Regions from separate parts of the Homo sapiens genome. Here regions 1, 2, 4, 5, 6 and 7 are each reported to be linked to region 3. Evidence: microRNA targets listed by miRTarBase, many of them from high-throughput screens and not tested one by one. Region 3 holds a microRNA gene; each other region holds the end of a gene's coding sequence.

Evidence for each region. The annotated mature microRNA hsa-let-7a-5p reads UGAGGUAGUAGGUUGUAUAGUU and lies in region 3 at 2,421-2,442, opposite strand. An mRNA with a match to its seed (bases 2 to 7 or 8) in the 3' UTR can be bound and repressed. Matches are read on the target gene's strand: a 7mer-m8 pairs with bases 2 to 8, a 7mer-A1 pairs with bases 2 to 7 and ends in A, and an 8mer does both.
Region 1: miRTarBase lists TMEM39A as a target of hsa-let-7a-5p. The part of its 3' UTR that is shown has no 7-base or 8-base seed match.
Region 2: the mRNA of IFT56 is a reported target of hsa-let-7a-5p. Seed matches in the 3' UTR shown: 7mer-A1 at 2,219-2,225 and 7mer-A1 at 2,769-2,775.
Region 4: miRTarBase lists SNX17 as a target of hsa-let-7a-5p. Seed matches in the 3' UTR shown: 7mer-m8 at 851-857.
Region 5: miRTarBase lists UBAP2 as a target of hsa-let-7a-5p. The part of its 3' UTR that is shown has no 7-base or 8-base seed match.
Region 6: miRTarBase lists HUWE1 as a target of hsa-let-7a-5p. The part of its 3' UTR that is shown has no 7-base or 8-base seed match.
Region 7: the mRNA of NID2 is a reported target of hsa-let-7a-5p. Seed matches in the 3' UTR shown: 7mer-A1 at 536-542.

What each region holds. Positions count from the first base shown.
Region 1 is chr3:119,428,162-119,432,237 of GRCh38, reverse strand. TMEM39A (transmembrane protein 39A) reads left to right here. Exons shown (of 9, transcript NM_018266.3): 9 at 24-3,289. The coding sequence ends at 257. Among named protein-coding and RNA genes, the nearest start is that of TMEM39A, 33 kb to the left of the region's middle.
Region 2 is chr7:139,189,153-139,193,152 of GRCh38, forward strand. IFT56 (intraflagellar transport 56) reads left to right here. Exons shown (of 18, transcript NM_024926.4): 18 at 169-2,834. The coding sequence ends at 280. Among named protein-coding and RNA genes, the nearest start is that of UBN2, 40 kb to the right of the region's middle.
Region 3 is chr22:46,111,129-46,115,193 of GRCh38, reverse strand. It overlaps MIRLET7A3 (microRNA let-7a-3), which reads right to left and starts at 2,445; the gene lies at 2,372-2,445. LOC124905135 (collagen alpha-1(III) chain-like) reads right to left here. Exons shown (of 2, transcript XM_047441696.1): 2 at 1,266-4,065. It overlaps MIRLET7BHG (MIRLET7B host gene), which reads right to left. Exons shown (of 5, transcript NR_110479.1): 5 at 1,266-4,065. It overlaps MIR4763 (microRNA 4763), which reads right to left and starts at 1,628; the gene lies at 1,537-1,628. It also overlaps MIRLET7B. RefSeq lists an enhancer at 3,884-4,065.
Region 4 is chr2:27,376,276-27,380,346 of GRCh38, forward strand. It overlaps SNX17 (sorting nexin 17), which reads left to right. Exons shown (of 15, transcript NM_014748.4): 13 at 38-112; 14 at 204-245; 15 at 331-1,260. The coding sequence ends at 444. ZNF513 (zinc finger protein 513) reads right to left here. Exons shown (of 4, transcript NM_144631.6): 2 at 3,818-3,973; 3 at 2,192-2,779; 4 at 960-2,096. The coding sequence ends at 1,270. Among named protein-coding and RNA genes, the nearest start is that of ZNF513, 2.4 kb to the right of the region's middle. RefSeq lists enhancers at 1,427-1,586, 2,201-3,071.
Region 5 is chr9:33,919,177-33,923,252 of GRCh38, forward strand. UBAP2 (ubiquitin associated protein 2) reads right to left here. Exons shown (of 29, transcript NM_001370062.2): 26 at 4,010-4,076; 27 at 3,790-3,857; 28 at 3,511-3,702; 29 at 2,517-3,423. The coding sequence ends at 3,328. It overlaps UBE2R2 (ubiquitin conjugating enzyme E2 R2), which reads left to right. Exons shown (of 5, transcript NM_017811.4): 5 at 1-1,223. Among named protein-coding and RNA genes, the nearest start is that of SNORD121B, 13 kb to the right of the region's middle.
Region 6 is chrX:53,529,483-53,533,555 of GRCh38, forward strand. HUWE1 (HECT, UBA and WWE domain containing E3 ubiquitin protein ligase 1) reads right to left here. Exons shown (of 84, transcript NM_031407.7): 84 at 2,614-3,929. The coding sequence ends at 3,827. Among named protein-coding and RNA genes, the nearest start is that of MIR98, 25 kb to the right of the region's middle.
Region 7 is chr14:52,001,781-52,005,856 of GRCh38, reverse strand. It overlaps NID2 (nidogen 2), which reads left to right. Exons shown (of 22, transcript NM_007361.4): 21 at 8-120; 22 at 361-1,048. The coding sequence ends at 371. It overlaps RTRAF (RNA transcription, translation and transport factor), which reads right to left. Exons shown (of 8, transcript NM_016039.3): 6 at 3,991-4,059; 7 at 1,615-1,663; 8 at 1-1,495. The coding sequence ends at 1,341. Among named protein-coding and RNA genes, the nearest start is that of RTRAF, 14 kb to the right of the region's middle.

The DNA of each region.
Region 1 (4,076 bases), not on the chromosome of region 3:
TTACTTTTTTAACTTCCTTACAGTTCTTATTTCATCGACCATTAAGGCTGTTAAATCTGCTCATCCTTATTGAGGGCAGTGTCGTCTTCTATCAGCTCTATTCCTTGCTGCGGTCGGAGAAGTGGAACCACACACTTTCCATGGCTCTCATCCTCTTCTGCAACTACTATGTTTTATTTAAACTTCTCCGGGACAGAATAGTATTAGGCAGGGCATACTCCTACCCACTCAACAGTTATGAACTCAAGGCAAACTAAGCTGCCTCTCAACAATGAGGGAGAACTCAGATAAAAATATTTTCATACGTTCTATTTTTTTCTTGTGATTTTTATAAATATTTAAGATATTTTATATTTTGTATACTATTATGTTTTGAAAGTCGGGAAGAGTAAGGGATATTAAATGTATCCGTAAACAAGGTGATGTGATCTTTCATGTGTTAGTATATTCGAATAATATACATATGAGAGGTATGCCTGTCCAGTAAAGAGATTGATTTGTTTGTATGGCTCTGGAATAACTCATTCGTTTATGAACACATCTCATGTATTACTTGACACAGTACCTTTGGTATGTCTGCTTTTCTTTCAATCCTCATTATCTTTAGCCCTCAGCTGGCCAGTACTTATTGCTAAAGAAAGGGAGATCAATGGAGTTGCCTACCAGCACCCATTCTCTTTTAGTTCAGCTGGCTAATAGTATTGGAATACATTGGGAAAAGAGTGGGTTAAAGTCCTAGGTGGGGTTCTCTTTGTTGCCTACCAGGAGAAAGCAGTAGGCTTCCTTTCTAAGATACGGACTCAGCTGGTCTATTTTACCCTGTGACATTTAAATATACTTTTGAATAAGCTACTATCCTGAGGCTGAGGGTTTTGCTGCCACTTTTCCTGTGTTTCCACTTCTGCTTCCAAAGATTTTCCTCTTAGTTGTTTGAAATAATACTTTGCCAGACAGGAAGTCTTTAGACTGCCCACATTCATGAAGAAGATGATGTGTGGCTGGATCAGTAGGAGAAGCTGAGTGCAAATGCCATGTGGGCTAGAGTATGGGAAGGTTGAAAATTCCAAGTAACTGGGAGAGTGGGCAAGTCCTCAGCTGAACAATCTTGGATGTAGTCTAGCAGCAACCCACCTACAATGGCGTTATGTTTGGAGTTATGAGGGGAAGTGAAAGATAAGAATTACCTACAGCTTTGTACTCAGATAATTTATATCCAAAATTTGTGTTTTAAATTTCATACTCCAGAACTTTCATGTTTATGAGTATTAGCCTTTTAAGTTATGGGAGGTGATATACTTAGTCCATTGATGTTGTCACTTGTCATCTAAACTTATGAGACCTTGTCTTAGAGAATCTAAAATATATTGTCATATGTTTTCTGTGCTGAGTTTGGTTTGTTACACTGTGAAGCTTTTGGTGAAACAAAATAAGACTTATGAAGTAAAAAGACCAATCATGTCGTTGACAAGCTGGCTCTGAAAATAATTCTTGCAGAAGAGTTCCTGAAAGGCTTCACCAAGGGGAAGTATTGTGAGGAGTGTTTGTAAAACCAAGGTACCCAATATCAGTTTTATGTTTAAATCAATAATTGTTTCTTTAAATATTTTGATGTGTATACTTTTTTTTTAAGTTAACATTATTTGGCATTCAGTCTGAGTCTGTTCAACCATTCAACAAATATATATTAACCAGTAGGCACTATATTAGGCCCTGGGGATATAGCAGTGAATGAGAAATGCAAAGGTCCTACTTGCACAGAGCTTACAATATGCGTGGGGGTGGGGGAGTTAGGTGGTGCAGAAAATACAGCAAATAAATTTATGTGTAATATAACATTCCCTGGTAGTAGTGATAAGTGTAGCAAAGGGAAATCAGGACAAGGAAATAGTGGTAAGAATAGCACTGCTAGAAGGCATCTTTGAGGAGATGATTTTTAAGCAAAGAAAAAGCAAGACTGAATCATATAAATAGCTTTGGGGAGAATTCCATGTTACAGTAGCAGAAAGGGCAGTGCCCTGAGGTGGGGACAAGTTGGTATATTGGAAGAATAGCAAGAAAATATATTAGGTTAGTTGCTTTTTAAAGTAGTTCAGCCTAAATATAGTGGTTCTTGAGGTAGGGGTGGGAAGGGTAGGGAATCTGCCATCTTTCTATTCTTTCTGTAGGATCTTGAAAATATGCTTCTCTTGGCAGCAACATTTTCATGAGATTACTCAGCAGTTGAGAGCAAAATGGGTGGCATGGGCACAGAGATATCTCATCAAAATTGCCCCAACTTGGCTCCAGCTTGGGAAAGTAACCCAGAAAACCCTGATTAGAGATAACAGACCAGTCTTATGAACTAATATGATGCCCCTTCTGGCTTGATCTGTCTTGGTCCTATCCTAAGGGAATAGCACAGAACCAGATGCTGGCTTGGCTAAATAAGTAAGTGGATATAAGAAATAAATAAAAATTAATTTTGGCTAATGGAATTGCAAAGTTCCTCCTACCCTCACCTCCAGATATGGCAGCATACGGGGCATAAGACCGTTTAGTTCAACGTGTTCTACACATTCCAGCTGTTTTTTGTTTGTTTGTTTTGTTGTTTTGTTTTTGTAGGGGCCACGTTCATGGAAGAGAGAAAAATTACTAGTTACCCGGATATCCTATTATAGTTCATGTAACAGAAGGGACACTATATTTGCTCACTGATAGTAGAAAAATGTGTAATCATTAAAGAATGACCTTTTTTGTAATTCTTTGTTGGCAAGTTAAAATTGTTTGTGGAAAGCATGGTATAGCAAAAGTTCAGTTGGGTGAACTGGGATACTGGAAAAGGAAAGAAGATACTTGACTAGTCTGGGTGGTCTAAGGTGGGTAAATAAAGGAGTAGAGGAGGGTAGTTCACAGGAATGAGCATGACAGAAGTTTTCCTCAATATCCTGTTTACTCTGATTCCATGTTTATATTCCTAATCCTCCTTTCCTTCCTGTCCCTATCAGTCACCACCACTGCCACCTGTTGTGCCGTTTCTCTCTCTTTTTTTTAATTAATTTTTTTATTTCTATTAAGCTAGCCAGGCATCTCATTTCTATGTACTGGGCAATTATATGCCAAACACTGCTGGGTGCCGGAGATAGTGATGTTCGAGTTCATTAACTAATAGAAGACAGACAAGTAAACCAGTTGTCACACTAGGGTGTTCATTAACAGAAATATGTATGAGATACGTAATAGATATCAGATCTATTAACAATCTTGAGTGTGAAGCCCAATAAAGTGCTCTTTTCATAAGTACTTCAAATAAGCAGACAGATGTCTTGGAACTTTTGTAGACAGAAGACAGCTAATGAAAGATTATAAGCTAAGAATAACTTATGATCCACTGGTTTCTAGTTCCCAAAGTAATCTCTAGATCAGCAGCATCAGCATCACTTAACTGATCAGCTGACCCTTCTGGAATCATAGGATAGACTAAATAGTGAAGGTCTATCCCTTCCCAAGAACACCTGTAACGGCCAGAAGAGGGGGCTGTCTCCTCAAATGCACTGACAACAATACAAGAACATACAGATTATGAAGAATCAGGGAATCATGACACCTACAAAAGAAACTAATAAAGCTCCAATAATAGACCCCAAAGAAATGGAGATTTATGAAATAACTGACAAAGAATTCAGAATAATACCCATAAAGAAGTTCAGTGAACTATTAATATATACAGATAAAAAATTTAATGAAATTTGAAAACAGTACACTAAAAAGAAAGTTGACAAATAGAAACAATAAGAATGGGATAGAAATTCAAGAGACTGAAAAATTCAACAGAAAGCTTCAACAGCTGACTCAGCCAAGAAGAAGAAAGAATCAGTGTGCTGGGAGACAGAACGTTTGAAATTATCTAGCCAGGAGCAAAAAAAACAAAAGAATTTCTAAAATTAAAGCCTACAGATTATGGAACACCATCAAGAGACCAAACCTTCACATAATAGTGGTTGGAGAAGGAGAAAGAGGTGCCTGAAAAGCATATTTAAAGGGGCCAAAAAGCATATTTAAAGAAATAATGGCTGAAAACTTCCTTAATCTGTGGTATA
Region 2 (4,000 bases), not on the chromosome of region 3:
AACATAAGGCTAGGCAGTTTGTAATTGCTTTGTGAATACACAGTGAAAGAGTCTATTACCAAAAATGCCCTACAAGACATACAGTATGAAGGACAGTTCAGAGTTTATTTTATTTTTTAATTTTCATTCTTCATTGAAACACTTTGTCTTTTCAAATCTTTTCCTCAGAGAGACCCTTCGAGAAGTGCTCCATTTACTGAGAAGCACAGGTAACACCCAAGTAGAATACATGATCCGGATCATGAAGAAATGGGCCAAAGAAAACAGAGTGTCCATCTAAAATAGCGCCAGCGTCCTAGGAACCAGCTTCTACTTTGACATAAAACTGGAAATCATTTTCACTCCAGTTTAATCTGTGATACAGGGCTCTGTTTTATTGACATTTTCCTTCCTTGCTCTTTAAGCCTCAAGGTCAGAGACTGACTTGCTGAGACTTAGTCTCCTGGCTGAACAGAGTGCCATAGTCTGTGACCCTGTATGATCCTAGTAGCAATAAGATTTTGGACTTATCTGGTGCCTTTCTTCCAAAAATGCTCAGAGTACTTTTATGCAATTTACTGACTTTAAGGAAAACAGTATAACTTTTTTTTGTTAGCATTTTATGGCATTGTCTCCTGGCTGCAATAACAAACATCTTTGATGTTCAAGAATCAGCATCATTGTATCATTTAACTTTAAGGCGTCTCTGTACGTTATCCCATTTTATTGGGGAATTCCATAAAGGGTTTTATAACGTCATCTCTGAATCTTGGGAGAATAACTAGCTATGTGTTTCTAAGAAAGGCAGTAAGCTACTTTATCAAACTGTCCAGTCATTAATAGGATAGATTTATGGGATTACTCTTTCAGTAATTAAATTGTTGATGATAATAACATGTTACAGCGCAGTAAGATGAGTATTGCAATGTTTTAAAAGGTGAGTACTATGAAAAAAATTGTAGTACCTCTAAAGGTATTCAAGAAACAATGTTTATGAATCTCACTAGTCCATTATAGTTTGGTACCATAATTATTTTAGGTAACAAAGCAGGTTAGGTTTTTGTTAATGTATCTTGCTTAACAAACATCAGTTTTTGTTGTTGTTGTTGTTGTTGTTGTTGTTGTTGTTTTTGAGACGGAGTCTCGCTCTGTCGCCCAGGCTGGAGTACAGTGGTGCGATCTCGGCTCACTGCAAGCTCCACCTCCTGGGTTCACGCCAGTCTCCTGCCTCAGCCTTCTGAGTAGCTGGGACTACAGGCACCCGCCACCGCGCCCGGCTAATTTTTTGTATTTTTAGTAGAGACGGGGTTTCACCGTGTTAGCCACAATGCTCTCCATCTCCTGACCTCGTGATCCGCCCGTCTCAGCCTCCCAAAGTGCTGGGATTACAGGCATGAGCCACCGCGCCTGGCCCAAACATCAGTTTTGAAAGTAGGGCTACAGTGATTTATATGTATTGTGGGCACTTATTAATGTAACGATAATAAAACATGAATCGTATAAAGTCCTTTGAGGGAATCTCCTAATGGCTAGGCTCTCTGTCGTAAGTCATATTCCAGCCCCAGGCTTCTGAGCTCTTATAACATACAACTGAGCATTCTTAAGCTCACAACCTATTTCCAGAAAAGAGACCCACATCTTTCTATGTTTTATACTACCTTTGTTTTTACACCATATAGTTTTTTTCTATTAGTTTAAGGTACCTAGTGTTACAGGTCTAGAAAGTGCAGAGCCATCCCTACCTAGAAGAGAATAGATGGGAAGAGAACTGAAAGAAAGAATTCCTCAAGCACTGAAGTCAGGAAAATCCCCGTAGGCACTGTATTAGTTGTTCCATTTATCCCAGCACTCCACTTGTGGATGAAGGAGTTGTATAGAAAGGAGATGAGAAAATGGCAGGAGTGGAAGCAGCCAAGAAGAGATCGATGACTGAAGATCTCCTTCACCTTCAGGACTGTCTCAAGGGGTTATTTCACCTCTACTCATGAGGATGGCCAGTTTTTCTGTCTTTTATCTTTAGACCCATATATAATCAGTTCAGAGCACAAATCAAAATAAACTGGCCTAAATAACTGAATTCTAGGAAGCAAAGCTACATCTTTTTTCATATGCCAAAGCTTCTGTTTCCTCATGTTGTTCCTACTTTTTAAATAATAAATGGCTCTCAGCATCTTAGGAACTAGATGGGTCCCATCTGGGTAGAACCTGCTATAATTTTTAGAATCACTCTTGTAATTCTTACCTCACTTAAAATATTAGGAAACACAGTAATAGAAAAGACAGGGAGAACTCGTCTGCAGGTTTTGGCAGTGAAATTTGTCTTCCAGTGAATTGCTATTATTTTCAAATTGCCTATAGTCAAAAAGCTTTTCCATTGATGGAGACTTACTTTCAAATGAGCTTGTGTTGAATTCAGCACTCTAGATTCTCTCTGACATTTTCCTGTCTTTTGGGAAAAAAAAGCAGATATTCCAAAAATGGCAGAAATCTAATTTTTGTAAACTTTTTCATCTATAGGATTGAGCCAAAAAACATACATACTATTTTAAAGAAAGGTACCATCTAATTCTTTTATTAAAGATAGCTACTTCTGAAATGTCTTAACAGAGTTTCAAGATTGCAAAGTAGTATTGCATAGCTGGTTTTCTTACATGTGATGATGGAGGAGAGAGGAAGACCCAGACTTAGGCATGTAGTGAAATATGTACAGTTTCTGGCATCAGTGTACTATTTATAGTCTATAGCATACATTACTTGCAAATGGGAAAAGTATTTTATAATTATTTTTGTACCTCAAAATAATTATTATATTCTACTGTATTATATTCAAATTAAAGTTTATTATTTGATTCTTAGTATGATATTCTGTTGAGTGTGATGAGGGTGGGACCTAAGTATGTCATGTGCCTTCTACCCTTTCTTTCCTAGCCCTAGAATGAAAGGAGAGAAAGTTTTGGGCCCCATAAGTTACTCTTTAGAAGAGAGAAAAGTACATATTCCCCAAGAAGCCCTTTCCACTAAGAGGCTGGTAGTTCCTGCTGAATCATACTAGGCTTGGCTCTTTGCTGAATTACAGCCCATTCAGAAGTTATATGACCAGTGCATAGTGTAGTACCTCACACATAGAAAGCTCTCACATACTTGTTGACTGAATAATTAAACATACAGTAACTGGTAGGGCAAGTGACTTGTGAAGTCTAACCTCATATATTCAGTTCCCATTGAATTATTATTTTATTGTGTGCTAAGCATATGCCAGGTACTTGGGCTGCAAAGATAAATAATGCACAGGCCTGACTCTCAAGGAACTCTAACAGAAGTATACACAACTAAACACAACAACGTGATTGATATCATCAGTGGGAATAAAGTATTGAGCAATAAAAGAAGGCAATGGAATGTTTGTATCCGTGTAAATGAGATGCCCCCTGCCTCATTTGGGAGAAGCAATCAGAATGGATCCCAAAGCTCAACAGCTAGCAAGATGCCCACAGCTCTGCCATGTGTGCCACACACATCACATGCATCCAAGTAGACGGAAGCCAAGGGACTGCTTTCCTCCTCTGTGGCTTAGTGCACTTTCAGAAAGGTGCTAGCAAACAGGCATGATATCACAATAGTTACATCTACTTTCTAATGGCAAAAATGAAGTAGTGATTTACTAGATCCTGTATTGAGAACATCTGTGTCTTAGATGAATAGTTGTCTTACGACTCTTTTCTTCATCCTATAAAATACTTCTAGGCTGGGCATAGTGGCTTATGCCTGTAATCCCAACACTTTGGGAGGCTGAGGTGGGAGGATCACTTGATGCCAGGAGTTCGAGACCAGCCTGAGCAACATACCAAAACCCTGTCTCTACAAAAAAAAAAAAAAATTTTAATTAGCCAGGTGTAGTGGCACATTCCTGTCATCCCAGTTACTTGGGAGGCTGAGAAGGGAGGATCACCTGAGACCAGGAGTTCAAGGTTATAGTAGGTACTTTATAATAATGTTCAAACAGTACTCCCGACTATTAAGA
Region 3 (4,065 bases):
GGGTGGGGGAGCGGTGGTGAGCAGGAGAGTCCTGGTGGAGGTGAGCACAGGCATGAGGGAGGGGTGCTGGGAGGCAGTGCAGGCAAGGGTGTCAGCAGAGATCTGCTCCGGAGACAGAGGGGGCTGCTCTGAGACTCTGAGGCCTGGCAGTGGGAGTGGGGAGGGATGGAAATGGTGTTTAGAGGACAGAAGTGGCCAGATGTGGCTGCTGACTAATTATGGGGTGAAGAAGGGGATTTGGACAGTGCCCATGTGTCACCCACTCTGGCCCCAGAGGATGATGGGAGAAGGGACCATGGGGCACGTCACTCATCTCCAGCTGCAAACTCCTACGCAGCTGTCAAGACCCAGCTCAGATGGTCCCTGCTTTAGGAAGCCCTCCCTGCCCTTGGGCCCCTCCTCCACGTCCCTTTGCCCTTGGCCCACAGGGTGGCAGCAGCTCCGGGAGGGTAGGCAGGCCTGGGCTCTGAGGTGTTTGCCGTGCAGGACTGGCACAGATGGGTGTCAGGGTAGGGGTGCCGGTCTGCCCAGACGTGGCCATGCAGGGCTGGGGTTGCCTGCAGAACCAAGGCAGGCCAGGAGGGCACAGGGGGGAATCTGGGCCAAGATTGTGGCCTGGGTCAACAGGAGGGGCGAGGATGGGCACTTGGGTGGGGGAGGTGTGGGCCCAGCTGTATCAGCCCCTCCCCACCAGGGGCTCTCGGTGCTGGGCCAGGCATGAACAAGCCCACCCCACATGCCCAGGGCGGGATCACTGGGCCCAGCCTACGGCAGCTGCTAGACGAGGGCCTGAGGCCTCCCAGGAGAATGGGTGCACTTTTGGGATGGCAGTCTGTCAGAGGAATTACGGGTGCCCTGGAAACTGTCCTGAGGGAGGACGGAAGGACAGGCACGTCCAGACTTTGGTCAAGGCACTTAAGGCACGGAGGTGGCCTCAGGAGCCAGGACTTGGCAGTGCTCTGAGCTGCTGACCTGGGGCCTTGGTGGCTGCCCCGTGGGGACCTCTCCACCGGGCCTGGGTCCCGGTGTTCAGCCCGCCTGGCTCAAAGGCAGCACGAGAGGGCAGAGAACGGGCTGGGCCTGGGATCCTGAGCCCAGGGTACAGCACGGAGCCAACTGAGGACTCTGGAGGCACCGGGAGGCGTGAGCAGACAAGTCTCATGACCTGGAACAGCTCGTGGCCAGGGGCCTCCACACTGTCCCGCAGCAGACGCGCCCCAGAGCCCAGTCCCTGGGCTTCCAGAATGAAAGGGGCCAGTTCCAAGTTCATGGTCAGAACAGCTTTATTGAATCTAGCTCCCAGATGCCCACCCAGCTTCGGCTCAGGCCCCCTGCAGGTCACTGAGGTGGGGGGCAGCCCTCCCGTGGGGTCGTGTCACTGAGGTAGGGGGCGGCCCTCCCATGGGGTCGTGTCACTGGGCTCCTCAGGGAAGGCAGTAGGTTGTATAGTTATCTTCCGAGGGGCAACATCACTGCCCTGAAACCACACAACCTACTACCTCACCCCGCCAGGCCCGGCCTTGCACTGCGGGAGGGCCCGCCGCCCCCCGCCCAGCACCAGCCCCTGCCTGGCGGTCCTCAGTCACCAGAGCAGGAGGGCTGGGCAGGCGCAGGGCAGGAGGGACAGGGGAGATGGCACCCCAGGAAGGGGCAGCTGCTGCTGGCTGGTCTTGGGAAGTCCCTGGCTCTCTGGGCCTCAGTTTCCCCAGGTACAGAGGAGCCACTGTCTGCCTTCAGATTGTGCCATGTGGGACCCAGTGTATGCAGAGCTGTTCCTCTCACTTCCTGCTCAGGAAAGGTGCCTTGGCCTCCCTTCCTCCACAGGCAGAGGCCCTGCCACTGAGCTGGCCAGGCTGGGGCACGTGCTGGGAACCTGGGGTGATGGGCAACGCCAATACTCGCAGCCCTGTGACCTCCAAACGTCTCGGCCACCCCTGGCCCCACGGTGCCTTCTCCTGGTGCTCAGTGGAGGGTACGGCTCAGGGCCACCCATGAGCCTGGGCCTGATGGCGGGGGGAGTGTTGGGGAGTGTTGGGAGACAGAGGTCAGACAAACAGCTGCGTGGATCGCCTCTCTCAGTGCGGCTGGGGCAGAGGGTGGGGTCGGCTCAGCTCTCCTCTGCCCTCGATGCTCCACACTGCATCTCCTTCCATCCTCATTTGCCTCCATTTTACAGAGGAGGAAACTGAGACCCAGAGAGATCAGGGGCCTGTCCAAGGTCACACAGCAAGTGGCACCTAGGCCTGTCAGACTTCTCAGTGTAGGCGGCCCCTGCCCCCGACTGCTGCCAAGGCTGCCCCCAAACCTGGCCCTGCCCGCTCCCAGCCAGGGTTCCAGACGCTCTGTCCACCGCAGATATTACAGCCACTTCAGGAAAGACAGTAGATTGTATAGTTATCCCATAGCAGGGCAGAGCCCCAAACTATACAACCTACTACCTCACCCCAAAGGGCAGTCGGTCTTGGTGCCGATGGGACTCCGTGGCTTCCAGAGGCACCTCCTGGGGACGCGGGAGGAAAGAGGGCTGAGGAGAACAGGGGCTCGAGGCTCGGCAGGCCACACGCACCAAGGGCACAGGGATTCTGGCGGGCAGGCGCGGTGGGCGCAGGGGGCTGGGACGCCGAAACCCTGGGAGTGGGGACATTGTGGCCAGCACCAGCAGGGACGGGAGCCTGCAGGAAACCACCAACCAGAGAGGGACGAGGAAGAGAGAAAGGAGGAGGGAGGGAAAGCCCTGGCGGCATTTTGCGACGCTGTCACAGGCAGCCGGCTCCCTCTCATCTGGACAGGAGTGGCCATAATGTCCCCAAGGAACTCTGCACTGGAGACCCTAGGAGGAGGGCTGTCATCTGTCGAAGGCCAGCAAGACACAGGCATGCGAGTGCCCACCCTGCTCGGCCCCCTCCCTCCCCGCACAGCGCCACCAGAAGCAGCACTCGTGGCCCCCAGGCTGGCTGAGTAGCGGCTTCACGGGCGTGCCGTCTCCTCCCACTGGGCAGGCAGGCATCCCTCCCCAGGGGCCCTGGTTCTGGCCCTGCTGTGCAGGCTGGCCTGAGCTGACCGCACTGCAGGAGGTGGCGGGAAGGTTCTTTCCTTCCTTGAGGGAAGTGGCCTCTAGGGGAGAGCAGCTGGGGGGGTAGTCACAGACCCTCAGGTCCACCCAGGGTCCAGTGCCTGTCCCTGCGGGTGCTGGCACACTCAGTGCCCTAGCTTGGGACGCACAGGGCTGGGACAGAGTGTAGCATGAGGATGACACTGAGAGGGCCTCGGGGCTCCCCTAGCAGGGGAACGTGGCGAGAGACGGGCCTCCCTAAGCCCCGCCTATCCTGGGCCTGGTGCAGGGTCAGCCTCAACAAATGCTAATTGTGGCTACCACCTTCCTGGGGAAAAGCTGAGGGGGCAGATACGACTGTCAACCCCTCTTAAACAGGTGAGGAGACCGAGGCCCAGAGAGGCAACGTGACCTGGATGTCACACAGCCAAGGGGGCAGCAGAGTGAGGTCCAAATGTCCTGCTCCCTGCCAAGCTTTTTTTTTTTTTTTTTTTTTTTTTTTTGAGATGGAGTCTCACTCTGTCCCCCAGGCTGGAGTGCAGTGGCGCGATCTCGGCTCACTGCAAGCTCCGCCTCCTGGGTTCACGCCATTCTCCTGCCTCAGCCTCCCGAGTAGCTGGGACTACAGGCGCCCGCCACTACGCCCGGCTGATTTTTTGTATTTTTAGTAGACAGGGGGTTTCACCGTGTTAGCCAGGATGGTGTTGATCTCCTGACCTCGTGATCCGCCCGCCTCAGCCTCCCAAAGTGCTGGGATTACAGGCATGAGCCACTGCGCCCGGCCTGCTTCCTGCCAAGTTAAACGGCATGCTAGCTCTCAGCTCCCCATGCCCAAGTGGACTTGAAAGGTCTACCCCAGCCCTCCTTCCACAGCCCATCCTGAGCAGGCTGCCTACTCCAGGCAGGCCCCAGGCTGGGCTGGACCATTTAATCCTCACAGCCCTGGTAAGGCTGAGATCACGGATCCCACTTCATAGTGGAGAAACTGAGGCTCAGGGGGTGCTGAATCTCTA
Region 4 (4,071 bases), not on the chromosome of region 3:
GATCCTGCCCTCACCGGCACCTTGTGTCTGTCCCCAGATGCTGCGCCGGCGGGTGGGGGGTACTCTGAGACGCTCAGACAGCCAGCAAGCAGTGAAGTCCCCACCACTGCTTGTAAGTATTACCTCCTGGTCAGAACCCTGGCTCTCAGCCCTGCCTCACCTCTCCTAGTGAGTTTCTGACACCTCTGCCTCTTCTTCCCCAGGAGTCACCTGATGCCACCCGGGAGTCTATGGTCAAACTCTCAGTGAGTTCCAGCGTTGGTGAGGTTGCTGTTTGTTGGGGGATCTTGCACGCCCAAGATCTCTGACCCCACCCTGCCTTTGTTACAGAGTAAGCTGAGTGCCGTGAGCTTGCGGGGAATTGGCAGTCCCAGCACAGATGCCAGTGCCAGTGATGTCCACGGCAATTTCGCCTTCGAGGGCATTGGAGATGAGGATCTGTAATCTCCACTGCTTGGATGTCTGCCCTCTACCCCAGAGGAATTTACAGAAACTTGCCCTGTGCCTGTGTCCCCCATGCTAGGGGCGGAGGGGTCTTTTCCTTCTTCTTTCCTACCTACCCCTTTTCTCTTGGCCAGGGGCCTCGTATCCTACCTTTCCTTGTCCCCTGGGCTGGCTGCACAGAGGATTGCCCCTTCTCTTTTCAGAGCTGGCCCTCGATGCCAAATTAGCATTTAGTATTTTGCACAAAGTCTAAGGGACCATGGCTGCCTGCCTTGGGGAGGAACCATATCTCCCTCTGGGCCGCTTCTGGCCTCTTGGAGCCATGGGCCAAAGGCCAAGGGGATGGGCAGAGGTCTGTGTTTGGTCTGGCCCAGTTCCCCATCATTAAACTCAGCCTGACTGCTGCCTACCTCTGGTTCCCTCTCACTGCCCCTGCTTCCCCCATCACAGCATGGACTACTATGCTAAGGGTAAGGCCAAATTGCCTGCCATTGCCAATTCAGCATAGACATGGCTTTGTTAGTGTTTCCTTTATTATAAAGCACTGAAATAAGTTAAATAAACAGGTGGGAGGCTGGGCAGTCCCCCAGCCGGTTTGTCCACAGCCCCTGGGGGCAGTGGAGGTGAATACAGGGCCCTTCTCACTGAGCTCGTGAAGTGCCTCAGTCAAGGCAAGGTCCCCTGGTCCATATGGGCCCCCCCGCCCATGGGGTTGGGCTGGTCCTTATAGTGCCTACGTTAGTCTGTGTGGAGCCCCTGGCCAGCGGGGGAGAAAAAGGTGGCTTCTGGTCCGTCTGTATAAAACATGGGGAAGAAGGACCTAGTTCAGGATGAGTCTGTGTGGACAGCCCGGCTGCCAGCAGTCCCCAGGGCTGGTGGGCCCCGAGAGCTCAAAACAGAGGGTGGGCTATGAGGTGGGGCCCAGCCCTCAGAGGCAGAGAGACCAGGCCCTCCTGCCCCACCGTGGCCATGCACCTTCTGGTGGCGCTTGTAGTTGTCCCAGTGGCCCGTGGTATAGGCGCAGGTGGCACAGCGGAAGGGCTTCTCGCCTGTGTGCCGCAGCATGTGACGTTTGAGGTTCATGCTCTGGTTGCAGCTGTAGTTGCAAAGGCTACACCGAAAAGGTTTGTCACCAGAGTGGATGCGACCATGACGCTTGAGGTTGGCCAGATTGCCACAGGCATAAGGGCAGAGGGGGCACTTGTAGGGCTTCTCTCCTGTATGGACGCGCTGGTGCCGTTTCAGGTTATCCAGATGAGCAGAGGCATAAGGACAGCGGGCGCAGCGGAAGGGCTTCTCACCACTGTGTGTCTTCATGTGCCGGGCCAGGTGGTTGGGATAGTGAGTGGCAAAGGGGCAGAGGCTACAGGCAAAGCCTTTGTCACTGGGGCCCTGGGGCCCCCCACTGGCACCCCCTCCAGCCTCTCCTCGCATGCAGCGCCCACACATGGCAGCTCCCAGCCGACTACCCTCACCCTCCTCCAGCTCTTGTCCACAGCCCCGGCAGGTCCAAGGGAATAGCAGCTCTGGCAGTGGTTCTGATCCAGTCCCGCAGAGGCCCTCCCCTTCACCCCGCAGCTGCCCACAGTCTGGCAGGAAACTGGCACCACCTGGTGGCACATGGAGGCTCAAATCTGGAAGGAGCAGAGCATCTGTGGGGACAAAGACCTGGGCTATGAATCCAATCCAAGCATTCCTAGGGTCAGCCACCCATGTCCCAAGATCTTTGGTCCCTGGTGTGTCTTACCTTCAGGTCGCCGGGGCACCGCCCCCTCCTGCTCTGTGGGACTGGGAGGCCGGGCTGGTCGTGGAGTACAGCAGCGGAAGCCACAGGTCGGGCAGGGAGGAGTGGGGGGCCCTGCGTGGGTACGCTGATGCCGCCTCAGGTTGCCCAGGCTGCTGCAGGCAAAGGGGCAGTGGGGACAGCGGTAGGGCTTCTCGCCAGTGTGGGTGCGGGTATGTCGTGTCAGGTTGACGAGCTGGGCTGAGGCGTAGGGGCAGCGGCCACAGCGGAACGGCTTCTCTCCGCTGTGTGTCTGCATGTGCCGCTTCAGGTGGCTCGAGTAGTGGGACACGAAGGTGCAGAGGCGGCATGAGTACAGTAGCCGTGGGGGCAGCAGGGGCCCCCCACCCGGCCCTCCTGCCCCACAACACGGCCCCTCACCTGTCGGCCCCCCACACAGCTGGCAGGCTGGGCCTGGCCTCTCACCCCTGGCCTCCCCTGGACCCCTGGCTGGCTCCTCAACTTCACTCTCCGCACTTAGTGCCCGGCCGCCCCCAGACTCATCGTCGCTCAGCCCATAGGGAAGCCCAGGCCTGGCCCCCAGAGAGTCTCCTGGTGAAATAGACATAAGAAGAGACATCAGCATAGGGTAGGATCAGGCTCCAAACTCTCCCCTTTTCACTTATGGTCTCCCCACTTGCTTGGCTCCACCCTTAGCTTTGATGATCCCTTTAGTTCCCTCCTAGGAATCAAGGTCTCCCCTGCAGTAATTCCAGAAAATTCAACATGAATTGTCTACCTCTTACACTGGACTAATCTAGTGATGGTAGAATTGACCTGTATCTAGTTTCCCTCAATGGTCAAGGATCAAGGGCTCACAGTGGATCACAGACTGAAATGAATCCATAATGAAATTAATTCTTGAGACAAGAAAGTAAAAATACGAAAGGGAGAGAGCCCCCAAGACCTTTTTCTAAGCTCTATTGCTAAGGCCCCTTTTAGTAAGGAGCTGATATAAAATAAAACCTATCTCTGAGGCAAAATTTGGAGGGAAGTGGAGACAATGAAAGTAATGCATGTAATACCACTTGCCTGCCTAAAGAACAGATATTTACATGGATCCCCTCAATGACTTTCAAAAAACATCTTGCATAAGTGGATGGGTAGTGCAGCAAATTAGGGTAGGGTGATGCTAAGATCACAGGGAAGAGGGACATGGAAGGATAAAGACAGAAACTAAAACCTCTCAATACAAAAGGAGCTTACGCTGCAGGTGAAAGGGAGTTAGATTAGACCTAAATACTGGGTTGAATGATTTACAGAGAGTTTGCTTCCCTGAACCTCTCTTAAAAGTAAATACACATAAGGAATGGGCTAGGGAGAGAGACAGGGCATTTACTTTTAATCAGTTGCTCCATGTGATTCACCCACCCTCCTATTCCTATCACCTTTGACCAGGCCTCAGAACTTCACCTCAACAAAGTGATGGAAGTGATTGGACCATTAAACAAATGAAGTCATCTAGCTCAAATGTAAACTAAACCAGCCCTCGGTTGTGGCAGGAAATGGTGTTCTGTTCACCTAACCTGCCTCCTGAAGGGCTGGGGTCTCCAGCGGCCGCTAATCCTTAACCAAGACCCGAAAACCCACCTTCCGAGTCTCTCTCGAAGCCCATGAGCTGGTCACTGTTGCCGTCGCCTTCCTCCTCTTCCTCTTCCTCCTCAAACTCCAGATCCTGGCCTAGTAGCAAATCACTCTCCAATACCAGGGCCCCGGGTCCTTCGTCGAGGGAGTCTTCAGTATCCACTGAAGAGGGGAGGGGGCTTGTGGATTCTCCCTCAGGAACCAGCCCTCGTGGACCACACTTCCCGTACTCGCTGACCCACTCTGATTCCCTTAGTGCC
Region 5 (4,076 bases), not on the chromosome of region 3:
AAACTCTCATAGATGTTGGAACTACCTTTTTACTCCCCATACTTTGTAAGTAATGCTTCCAGATTAACCTGCAAATCTTGTGGAGCCAAAGCCTCTCACAGTGCTGATTTACCTCCCCCAAAATGCCCCCAAACCCCCATGCAAGTTTACAGCCAGTAGCTTGGTCTTATTCTCTTGGAGCCCTAAAATTAAGCCTTTCATTCCCCTTTGCTAAAGCATCTCACTCCCAGGGCAGCCCCAGCACCCTGGCATTGCGGGAGGTGCTCTGCTGCACAGCTGTTCCATCAGGCCCTATTGGCCTCTGTTAGACATTGACTCAGGGAGCCGGAGCGCCAAGTGGAGGTTGTACCTTTCAGCCCTTTGGGGTGTTAAAAGTGTCAAGGGCTGGGTTTGCCTCTGATGAGTACAATCAGTTCCAGAAGACTGGGTAAGTCTCTTGCTAGCAGGTGGACATTCTGGTATTTTAGACTGACTGAACGAAACCCAGAGGCTGGTTCCAGAGCTCTGTCCCTGAGAACACATCCCTGTGGAAAATACTTGAGTTTGTAATTTTTTTTCCCCCTTCTGGGAGTGGAGGTCTCAGGCTCAATCCGGAACCATGTACGTACAGTTTTGCTTATTATTTGATGTGACATGAACTCAAAATCCTGCATTTTTAGATTCCTTTTAGTTCTAATTGAGGCCTCACTAGATGCTCTTCAGTTCTGTGTATTTTGAGGCTGGGTGGAGAAGTATATGATTCTGCTGTTGATTCTTTCAGTCTTCCCCCCTTCTCCTTTTATCAATCATTCCAGAGTTATTTTCTATTAGTCAAACTTTTTTGTAGAACCTTCTTTCCCTTACCCTGGCAAATTGCTTCTTTACTTGCTGGTTTCCTTACGTTTGGGGCACATGTTGTAAGAAACTGATTGGAAGGGGAAATGTGCAGCTCTCCACTGGAAAGGAACTCTCCACCCCTCCCATCCTGATAAAACAAACAAGGTTTACATTTACAACTAAAAGGATTCAGATGCAATTTTCAACTATTCTGAAACCAGCAGGACACACCTGACTTTAATAGTTTTAGCTGAAATTGTAGATGTTTTGCTTCAGTTTAACTTATGAGAAAAGATTATCTGACGGATTTTGTGTTGACTTCCCCTTTAGTGGTTTATTTTGTCTTTTTCTGCCCATCTGTCTACTAATAAAATGTGAAATAAAATACCTGTATTGCTACTTCCCCATGAAATGACCCTCTTCTTTTTTTACCTTGTGTTAAAGAAAACTAAAAGGTGGTCTCATTATCACTGTTAAGTTTGCAGATTACGCTGGGGCTCAGCTGAAAAATTAGACAAAAACCAAAACTGGGGAATCTGCCTTTCTAACTAACTCACCTCCCTGGTGTATCCCCAGTCCCTTCAAGCTCCTTATAGACGTAGCCATTTGTTAAACTTGATTCTGAAAACGGGAGCTGATACAAGTAGGTCAGTGAAGGATTGAGGGGTGCTCTGCTGCTTTCCTTAGGCAAACATTTTCACTGTCATTTGTTTTCCTAACTTACTGCTGCTAATAGCAGGGATCAGGCAGATCACCCTATTTAATAAAAGTCCTAATTTTACCTGTAGACACTTACCTTTTTTCTAGGTAAGGTCCCAAGCTGTGGGTTAATAGGAGTATCGGTCCCATCTGATGACAGGACCATCGCTCTCAATTGTAGAGGCCAAAAGCAGAAAAAGTAGATTGTGACCCCAGGCTGGTTCTGACACAATCAATCAATCAATCACCTGACTAGCCATTTTATTTCCTCCTTTAACCTGATCTGAAGCAGCGATTTAGGAGTGAAAAGAGAGGCTGTAGCACCTTGGGCAACACTTCTAGGCCCTGAGCTTCCTGCCTGCTGGATTGGAGCACAGTTGTGGTTGGCCAACAGGAGATCTGCCTCCTTCCTATGGCCCTTGGTTACTCCCTGGCTTCTGACCTGACACAAGGTGAATGGTTGGTTGGGCTTTTCTGGAGCAGATATGTAGCCCCGGATCCACCAGCCTACCTCATGACACCCTCACTAGTCACGTGTTCTACCATAGCTTTTGACTGCCAATCAAGATTATGTTCAGTTGATGACAAGCAAAAGACAGGTATACCTGTTCATACTCTCCCTTAAGGCCTAGAACCCTGCTCTCAGTTCTTGGCTTTGCTTCAGATTGTAAAAGTCCACTGAGATTTGGAAAAGAAATTACCCTGCCCTGGTATCCAGTGGACAGGGCTCTGTGGGACACTGCCCTATCCCTAAGTCTCTTAAGGAGCTATAAGAAAAGCCAGGTTAACTTTGATCAACATGGCCTGGGCCCTGTAAGGAGGTTTAGCTGTCCTTACAGCCATTGTGATTTGGGCCAAGAGGGTCCAGTAAAAAGGAAAACCATTTCAAGCCTTTATAGCCTGTGTCAGAAGACTATGACCATGTGGGATCTCCTTTAGCCCTGTGAAGTCCAGGGCTTCTGCCCTGAGCTGCCCTTCAGTCACACCACACAGAGACCATGCATGCTCTCAGAACTTTATTAGGTGGGGATTGGGCAAGAGAAAACCCCTGAAACAGTTGCCCACGTGGTTCAAGACAACTAGAATGGAGATGTGTTGCTTGGAGATACCTTAGATTTTTAAAGGGGAGCTGACTGGCTGAATAACTCAGATTATTTTTTTTTTTTTCATGGTCAGCCAGTCTCTAGTAAGTCTCTAGGGACATGACCAGACCAGAAGCCCCTGTTCTATATGAAGACAAACAGGTGGCCATACTTGGGTGGAGGGATACCGCTGCTATTCCCAGATGAAGATTTGGTGGAAGGAGACCATGACAGATGACAAACGGAACAGTTTCTCAAAAACAGAGGTATGAAGTAATTACACAGGAAAGAAAACAATTTCCAAAGGAGTGAGACAAGTCGTGATTCTTCATTGGTACCTGACCCCTATACCCAAACAGCCTTGAACCAGCCCTTCCAGAGACTGCCCCTAGTGGCCCACTGGGCAGTGCAGGCTGTGAAGAAGACCTGAAGGCAGATGGGGTGGGGGTGCTTATTTTGCTACAGTGGAGAAGGGGCTTGAATGGGGAGGGCAGACCTGGCTAACATCTGCCGCCATCCCCCAACTCCCCCCCAGACTTCTATCACATTTACAAATACATACATAAATACATTACATACAGTAGCCAGTCTGGGAGGCAGACTCCCCACAGAGGCATGGCTGACACATGTCGGGAATTCTAGGAAAGGGCACTGGGCTCCCAAATACGTGCTCGTGTGTTCTCTCCTGCCCAGGATAAGCCTTGCCCCAGCCCACCCCTCTCTTCTGGGTTTAGTTTGTCCAGTATGGAGAGTTGCCGTAGGCAGGTTTGGAGGCTTGAGACTTGGGCTGCAGGGAGCTGGGCTGGCTGCGCTGACCCGAGCCACTCTGAGGAAGAGGAGAAGGGAAGGCTGTCAAGGCTGGAGCAGAACCCCTGGCCCAGAGTAGGGTGGCTGCCTCCATCACTGTACTCACCTGTGCATCCTGCGGAAGGTGGTGGTGCAGCAGCTGTGAGTGGGGCTGCTGGTGGGCTGGCAAGATGTGTAGGAATGGTGGGGGTGCATAGCCAGGGGCCGCTCCCGAGGCCAGGGGCCCAGTGGAGCCCAAGACCGAGGGCAGGCTGAAAGGTGGAGGCGTCCCTGCATGAAATCCCTGCTTGTCAAAAGTCTACAGGGCAAAGAAGACAATGGTGAAGGTCAGGTTGGGCTGTAACCTCTCAAAAACCTATACACCCAACCCACCTTTGTCCCTCACCTGTGTCTTATTGTAGACAGAACCAGTCATATCAGGTAGACCAGTGGTGCTTGAAGACACTGATACTCCTAGGAGGAAAAGCAGTTGTTCCCCACAGCAGTTGTTCCCAGCTCCAGGCTCCCCACCTCCAGGATCACTCAGGGGTTGCCCTGCCTGAGAGGGGATCAGGCAGGAGCCCACCACTCCAGGCCTTATCCTGGAAAGGAGAGGTAAACACTACCTTTGCCAGGCCCAGAACCTGCAGACTTGTTTGGTGCCTGCGATGATCCAGCATAGCCACCTTTGGA
Region 6 (4,073 bases), not on the chromosome of region 3:
TTGAGCCCTGACGGTAGAGGTTGCAGTGAGCCGGGATCGCACCACTGCACTCCAGCCTGGGCAACAGAGTTGAGACTCAGACTCAACAAAGACAAAATATTACTTTAAAAGAAAAGAAAAAGGCCAGGTGCAGTGGCTCACATCTGTAATCCCAGCACTTTTGGAGGCTGAGGTGGGCAGATCACAGGAGGCCAGGAGTTGAAGACCAGCCTGGCCAACATGAAGAAACTCTGACTCTACTAAAAATTTAAAAAATTAACCAGGCGTGGTGGTGCACACCTGAAGTCCCAGCTACTTGGGAGGCTGAGGCAGGAGAATCTTTTGAACCTGGGAGGTGGAGGTTGCAGTGAGCCGATCATGCGCCACCACACTCCTGCCTGGGTGACAAAGCAAGACTCTGACTCGAAAAAAAAAAGAGAGAAAACATCACCAATGTAGTTGAAGCCCTGTGTAACGTGCCTCTTCCCAGCCACATCCCCTCTGTCTACCCCTGCATTGTCCCATAACTTATCCTCAACATTGTGCAAGATTTTATCATCCTCATGGTTTTTCATACTCTTCATACATGTTGCATGATTTTGCAACTTTTGAGCAGGTCTTATATGTATGTACCCTCCTGAAACTTTTTCTTTTTTTGAGATAGGGTCTCACTTGCTACCCAGGCTAGAGTGCAGCGGTATGATCTCAGCTCACTGCAGCCTTGACCTCTCTCCTAGGATCAAGTGATACTCCCGCCTCAGCTTCCCAAGTAGCTGGGACTACAGGCACGCACCACCACGCCCAGCCTGAAACTTTATCATTGAGATTGTGCATGTGATGTATGCAATTGATATTTTTACTACTGTGTAGGATTCCATTGTAGGAATTTGTCACAATTCATTTATGTTAGGTAATAAGTTTATGTGAATAGTTTGTTCATTATAGCCAAGTTTCTTGCTAGACTGTTTTAAGTTCCAATACTTTTTTTTTTTTAGACGGGGTCTCGCTGTCTCCCAGGCCGGAGTGCAATGGCGTGATCATAGCTCATTGCAGCCTCGATTTTTGGGGCTCAAGCGATCATCCCACCTCAGCTTCCCGAGTAGCTGGGACTACAGGTGTGTGCCACCATGCCTAGATTAAAAAAAAATTTCAGTAGAGAGGTCTTGCTATGTTGCCCAGGCTGGTCTTGAATTCCTGAGCTCAAGCAATCCTCCCACCTTGGCCTCTGAAAGCCTTGGGATTCCAAGCATGAGCCACCATGCCCTGCTCCAATAACTTTTGACTCCGTTAGCAAATGGTTTAAGTTATACCTTTTGTTTCCTGTTTTACTGAAATAGAAAACTGCAGAATAGCAGAACAGCACTAATAGTGATAATTAGCCACCTTATCTTTCAAGTGTGATGTTGGCTGTTGGTCTGAAACTACCTTATCAAGCTAGCTTTACCTTTAAAGGTTGCCAGGAATGGTTCTTGAATGTGAACAAATGCCTTGCCATCTACGGACAAAGATTTCTCAACTGACAATGAGGCGATTAATATTACACTACACATATCCCAGGGGCAAATCACACTTGATCATGCTCTATTTTTGTAGTATCCCACTGAATGAGATTTGCTTCCATTTCCCATAGGATTATTCCATCTGTACTCCCAGCTTCCACATCCAACCCCCAACCTCCAACCCAGGAACCCCCCCTTTACTTTCAAATTTAAATTACCTGCCAGACCTTTATTTCAAAGAACCAGTTAATCTTACTGCTTATTGACAAATTCTACTCTCTGCTTATTCTTTTTTTTTTTTTGAGACCGAGTCTCATTCGGTCACCCAGGCTGGAGTGCAATGGCGTGATCTCAGCTCACTGCAACCTTCGCCTCCCGGGTTCAAGCGATTCTCCTGCTTCAGCCTCCCAAAGTGCTGGGATTACAGGCGTGAGTCACGGAACCTGGCTGGGACTGGCGCGGTGGCTAGGACTGCCAGTAGCTGGGACTGCAGGCGCACGCCAGCACGCCTGGCTAATTTTTGTATTTTCAGTAGAGACGGGGTTTTGCCATTTTGGCCAGGCTGGTCTTGAACTCCTTATCTCAGGTGACCCACCCGCCTCAGCCTCCCAAGGTGCTGGGATTACAGGCGTGAGCCACCGCACCTGGTGTATCTCTTCCATTTTAAAGTCCTGCTGGACTCTAAGCAACTAAACTCCTCCTGCCTTGAATTATATGACCCCTCTCTGCTTAACCTCAACTCCTGCTCAGCTTTAGGCTGCAATCCAAGTGCACCGACGATGGAAAGCTTTCCCTGACTCTCCAGGCTAGGTCAGGCACTTCTATGTGCACTGAGACCCCTTTCTTCATCTGTCACAAAACTAATCACTGTCTTCGCCTCCCTACTAGAAGCTCAGTAACACGGATGGGGCAATTCCTCTGCCTTCTCAGTCATCAAAGCAGGGCCAGGCACAAAAGAGTGGGAACACTAAAAAAGGGGAAAATGGCTAGCAGCCTTGGCTCCAGGACCAGGGGATCAGGTTAAAGACACACCCTTTCTTTCCTAGACCCACACTTTGGGACAAGGTCAAGGGGACAATCTGTTCAGAGGTAGCACCCCAGGAAAATGAGAAAAACCACACAAGGCAAGCACCACTTGGGGTTATTTTTTCTAACTAAATTTTTATTAAATTATTTTTTCTTTGAAGGCTGGAACCATCGAAGTCCTTAGATCAGCTTTAAGCACTGGATGGAGTAAAAACCACAAGGGACTACAAGGTGATCTGTGAACAGACTGGCAGACAGATGACGAGAGAGGGAGTGACGACAACAAAAATAGACAAACAAAAATAATGGTCTTCTGGCGACCTAGTTAAATTACTCGCTTATTAAAATTTATTAGAAATAAACAAACATTAATGAAATAAAAATCTAAAACTGAGCCCCAGACTCAAGACTACTAGAAAGGCTCACCAAGTAAAACCCTCGGTTGGGTCAAGTGAGCTCTCTGAATGTTTTGTACAACCTGCTGCAGTTTGTTCCCCTTGAGCAAGGTGATGCTTTGTCCTGGGCTGCAATCTCTAACACCATCACCATCCCCAAGTGCAGCTCCCATTCTAAAAAAAAAAAACAGATGCCCCCACCCCCAATTCCTGGTGAACTGCTCATCTCTCCTGACTGCAGAAACTGACTCTGAAGGAGGAAGTTGCACCAGTGGTGGAGGCAGGTGGGCAAGCGGGTAGGGCAGGGATGGTTTCCTGGAGAATCCATCTTTTCTCCAGATGCCTAGCATGTGCTTAAGAGTTTTTTGTTTTTTTTTTTAAGTTTGAAAAAAACTCCATTGTGAAAAGTGAGTTATGAAGAGTGCTCTTTATTTGAAACCTCCACAACACAGACGCCAATCTTGTCTCGCATTGAATCATTAGCTGTGCACATCAACACATTCCAAGCACAAATTAAGAAATGCAAACAGAACAAAAAAATATATATATATATAATTTTTTCCCCTATCCAAAGGTTTCAAGTCTCAATGCAGCAAATCCTTCTGAACACAGAATCTGAGGAGCACACTGTTCAAACAGTTGGGACAGACAGGTCCCTGCAAAGGCTACTGCCTTTTTAAAACACATGGGGTGGGGATCATGGACGGCATGGAAAGGGGAGAGAAGGTGAGGAAACAGGCGGCGGGGAGAGAATGAGAAGAGGAACAGGTATGCGCTGGGGAAGATGGGGCAGCTGGGACACACACGGTGAGTTGGTGGATTTCATTTATTGGTTTTTGACAATTTCTTTCTGGTTCTTTTTTTAACTCCCCCCTCCCCAGGTCCAACAATGGTAAAAAAAACCCCACGGAGTTGGGCAGGGCCTTATTAGGCCAGCCCAAAGCCTTCAGAGCACTCCTGGATAGCCAACAGTAGCATGTGGCGGAGCTTCTCAAAGCTCTCATAGGCAGGCAGATCCAGCTGATTAAAACTAAGGAAAGAAGAAAGATCAGTTTGTGGTGAGGGATGACAGATAACCAAATCTGTGTGTTCCCATGGTGCCCACCAGCCCCTCCCCTCCCTGAAGAAACCAACTCCCTGCTTCTTGATGACTCCCAATCTTGTCTCAGCCCAG
Region 7 (4,076 bases), not on the chromosome of region 3:
TTACCAGGGATGGTGTTGTATCAGTAAATAAACATAGTGGCCAGTTTACTGATGAGTATCTCCCAGAACAACGATCTCACCTCTACGGGATAACTGCAGTCTACCCCTACTGCCCAACAGGTAAAAAGTATGCTTTAGGATGCTCCTTTAAATTAGCAGGGTAGAGAAGGGATATATATGGTATTTGATTACCCCTGCTGCCTGTGACACTGCCACCATTGCCTTCTTCCTGCCCTGAGGGCCAGTCTTTACTACCTTAAATCTACCTAGTTTATACACAAAATGCAAAGACTTGCTGTTGCAACTTGGTTACAATATACTCACCCACCACCCTGTCCCACCCCTGCTCTTCTCTCACAGGAAGAAAGTAAGTACAGTAATGTAAAGGAAGACTTGGAGTTTACAATCAGAACCTGGACCCTAAAGAACAGTGACTGCAAAGGCAAAGAAAGTAAAAAAGGAATTGGCCATTAGACGTTCCTGAGCATCCAAGATGAACATTTTGTAGTGCAAAAAGACTTTTGTGAAAAGCTGATACCTCAATCTTTACTACTGTATTTTTAAAAATGAAGGTTGTTATTGCAAGTTTAAAAAGGTAACAGAATTTTAACTGTTGCTTATTAAAGCAACTTCTTGTAAACATTTATCATTAATATTTAAAAGATCAAATTCATTCAACTAAGAATTAGAGTTTAAGACTCTAAACCTGATTTTTGCCATGGATTCCTTCTGGCCAAGAAATTAAAGCACATGTGATCAATATAACAATATAATCCTAAACCTTGACAGTTGGAGAAGCCAATGCAGAACTGATGGGAAAGGACCAATTATTTATAGTTTCCCAACAAAAGTTCTAAGATTTTTTACCTCTGCATCAGTGCATTTCTATTTATATCAAAAGGTGCTAAAATGATTCAATTTGCATTTTCTGATCCTGTAGTGCCTCTATAGAAGTACCCACAGAAAGTAAAGTATCACATTTATAAATACCAAAGATGTAACAATTTTAAAATTTTCTAGATTACTCCAATAAAGTGTTTTAAGTTTTCCTATGACTTAAGGATCTATATTGTCTCTAGGACAAAGCTGGGGGTTGGCATATATGCCTTAACCACAAAGGAGAAAGGTGATTTATGCAAACATACAGTACATAATAAAAATTCTACTTTCCTAAACTTTATTAAAGAAAAAAGCAATAAGCAATGGTGGTAAATCTCTAGAACATACCCAATTTTCTGGGCTTCCTCCCCCGAGAATGTGACATTTTGATTTCCAAACATGCCAGAAGTGTATGGTTCCCAACTGTACTAAGTAGGTGAGAAGCTGAAGTCCTCAAGTGTTCATCTTCCAACTTTTCCCAGTCTGTGGTCTGTCTTTGGATCAGCAATAATTGCCTGAACAGCTACTATGGCTTCGTTGATTTTTGTCTGTAGCTCTCTGAGCTCCTCTATGTGCAGCAATCGCAGAATTTGAGCAGCTTCATTAAGAACTGCATCTGTTTTATGAGAAAAGAACACTGCTTCAATACATAATTTTTACATTTAAGGCCATTTATTTCCTCCCAAGTATTCAGTCTGTAAAAAAAATAGTTTGAATTTAAACAAAATCACTTACCTCCTGTGTCAAAACCAAGAATATGTTTGTCTAAAGCAACAGGTAAGCCCTTTAAAAAAAGAAAGACAAAATGAGAGTATTTATGGTTAAGAATAGCATCCTTTCCTCAACTGAAACTGAAAAGCACCTAGCTATTCTGGTGTCTTAACTCTTTTAGCTGCATGGGCAAGGGAACTAGGAATTTTGTTTATATTTGCTTTGTGATGATTGTGATTAGCGAGTTTTCCCTATTTCAACCGGTTAGGGGGAAAAGTTAACCTTTAAATGTACCAGGAAGCTCTATAGCTCATCCAATCCTTTAGCCCAGGCATACAAAACAATATATCCTTATTGCAGCAGTGCCTTGTCATTACTGCTATGGAAGGCAAGTTGAGCCAGGCTGTTACTGTCTTATTTTGGCGACAGTAAGCAACAGTATAAACGGCAAAAATAGTACCTTATATTCCATTTCTGAGCACATTAATTTGTCTTTACAAATTGTACGAACCTTTCAGCCAGCATGGTGTTTGCCAAGATTATGTATAATTATGTATAATTTAACTTTCAAGACTTGACTTGGAAGTTACTTTGAAACAAACAGTCTAGGAAAATGAAAAACTAAACCACTCAGCACCTATGGACATACTAAAGATGGTGACTATGGTGATGCCAAACTTCACAGAAACAAATTCTAAAATGAGGACAGTCTGTACTTCCTGCTGATTATATAAAATCACTGCCAAGAAAAACACACTACCCGTACTTTCAATCTTTCAATGTTACAACCTGTTACTATTCAAATGCTTTAGTCACTGCTCAATTCTTGCCTTATCTAGTAATGTAAATCTACGTAGGCTCTGTCTGCTTTAAAACAGCTAACACATGTAAGTCTGAAGAAACCAATGGGTACGAAAGCACAAGTGAGCAAAATTAAAGAGCAGAATTGTACTGAGTGGCTTTATATGTTCATCTAGTACCAGAGGCTCCACTTTTTTTTCCTTTGCCAACAGGCCACCAAGCTACCCCTGAAAACTACCATATGCCTCAAATAGTAGTTATAAATGCTTATAAGTACACTAGACTGTAAGAACTCCACTAAATTGTTATAGGCTGGTATCTTTTGAGATGACACCAAAATTAAAATTGGGAGCATTAAAAATAAAACTAAATTTTACTTTACAAACAAGAGCAAAGAGATTTGGCTAAGCCTTTACTTACACTGCCTTCCAAAGCATAGTTTTGCTGAAGGAATGAATGAATGAATGATTGACTTTATTACACCAGAACAATTTACTGTCTGTTCTATAGGGAGGGTGAAATAAGCTGATCTTTAACCCAACTTCCAGTGGCTCGATTCATATACAACGAGCCAGTAAGAACCTTTAAAAGAAAACAGTGTCTTTCAGAGATACTGCCCTGGCATTAGTAACCTTTTAACACTGCTTGGCCTGCCTAAAGGGGCTGGAGGACAAAAGGCATTGGGAGATGGGGGAAGGGCGCAGGGAGGACAAACAACATAGTTGTGCCCAAGGCATTCACTACAACATCATTGCTGCAGGAGGCAGGTGTTATCAGACACTGCTGCTGCTGACCTGAGGACAGTCTCTCCACCGCTGCACAGCCAGTGAAACTTTAGGCATCTTTGGATTTCTGATATAATCTAAAAATGTTCCATATTTTCTCTTTAAGGGGAAGGTAGTCATGGGATATAGCTTTTCTCAGCCTACAAGGTAGGACTGAAAGATACCATTTCAGTCACCTGTACCTTGAACCTTACACTCCAACAGAACCCCCTGTCCCTTCACCTGGGCAGACTGACAAGCTCATGCAGACATCCACGCATGGACCCTTCTCCCCACCTACCGTAAGAGCACAGGCTCTCAAGTCAGACTGCCTGAGCTCAGTCACTTACCAACTAGGTGACCTTAGCCAAATTACTTTCTCATGTTTTATGCCAGGAAATTGAATAAAACAAGAATTTACTCTGAAGAAATAAGAGCAAGGATAGAATTTAGATAGAAAAAGAAAACTAATTTGTAGTGAGGTGTGTTCCTTCTTCTCCAGCATGAGTCAAAATAATCCAGTAAGTTTCATATGGGTAACTCATTTTAAATAAACTTCAACGGGCCACAAGCATGATTTGTGGACTGTGCATGAGCTATTTGTGGCTTTTTTAAGGTACAAAGTGAGAGGAACATGAAGTTTTTCACTCAAAAATGACCCCCTAGCCACTGAATACATTCAATTTGCTTTAGGAAGCACTGAAGTAAGCTATCCTTTCTCTAAGTTGTAGAACGTAGAATGGATATCTTAAACAGATACATGCAAAGTTTAAAATCACGGCCATACCAGAAGAAATGTTCATTAACAACTTATTTAGGATTTATAGAAACGTACCTCTTTTGTTTGATTTGCCTTAGCAACTGCATCCTGTGTCAGGCGCTCCTGAACCAAAATCCGAATTGCCTAAGAAACCCAAAAAT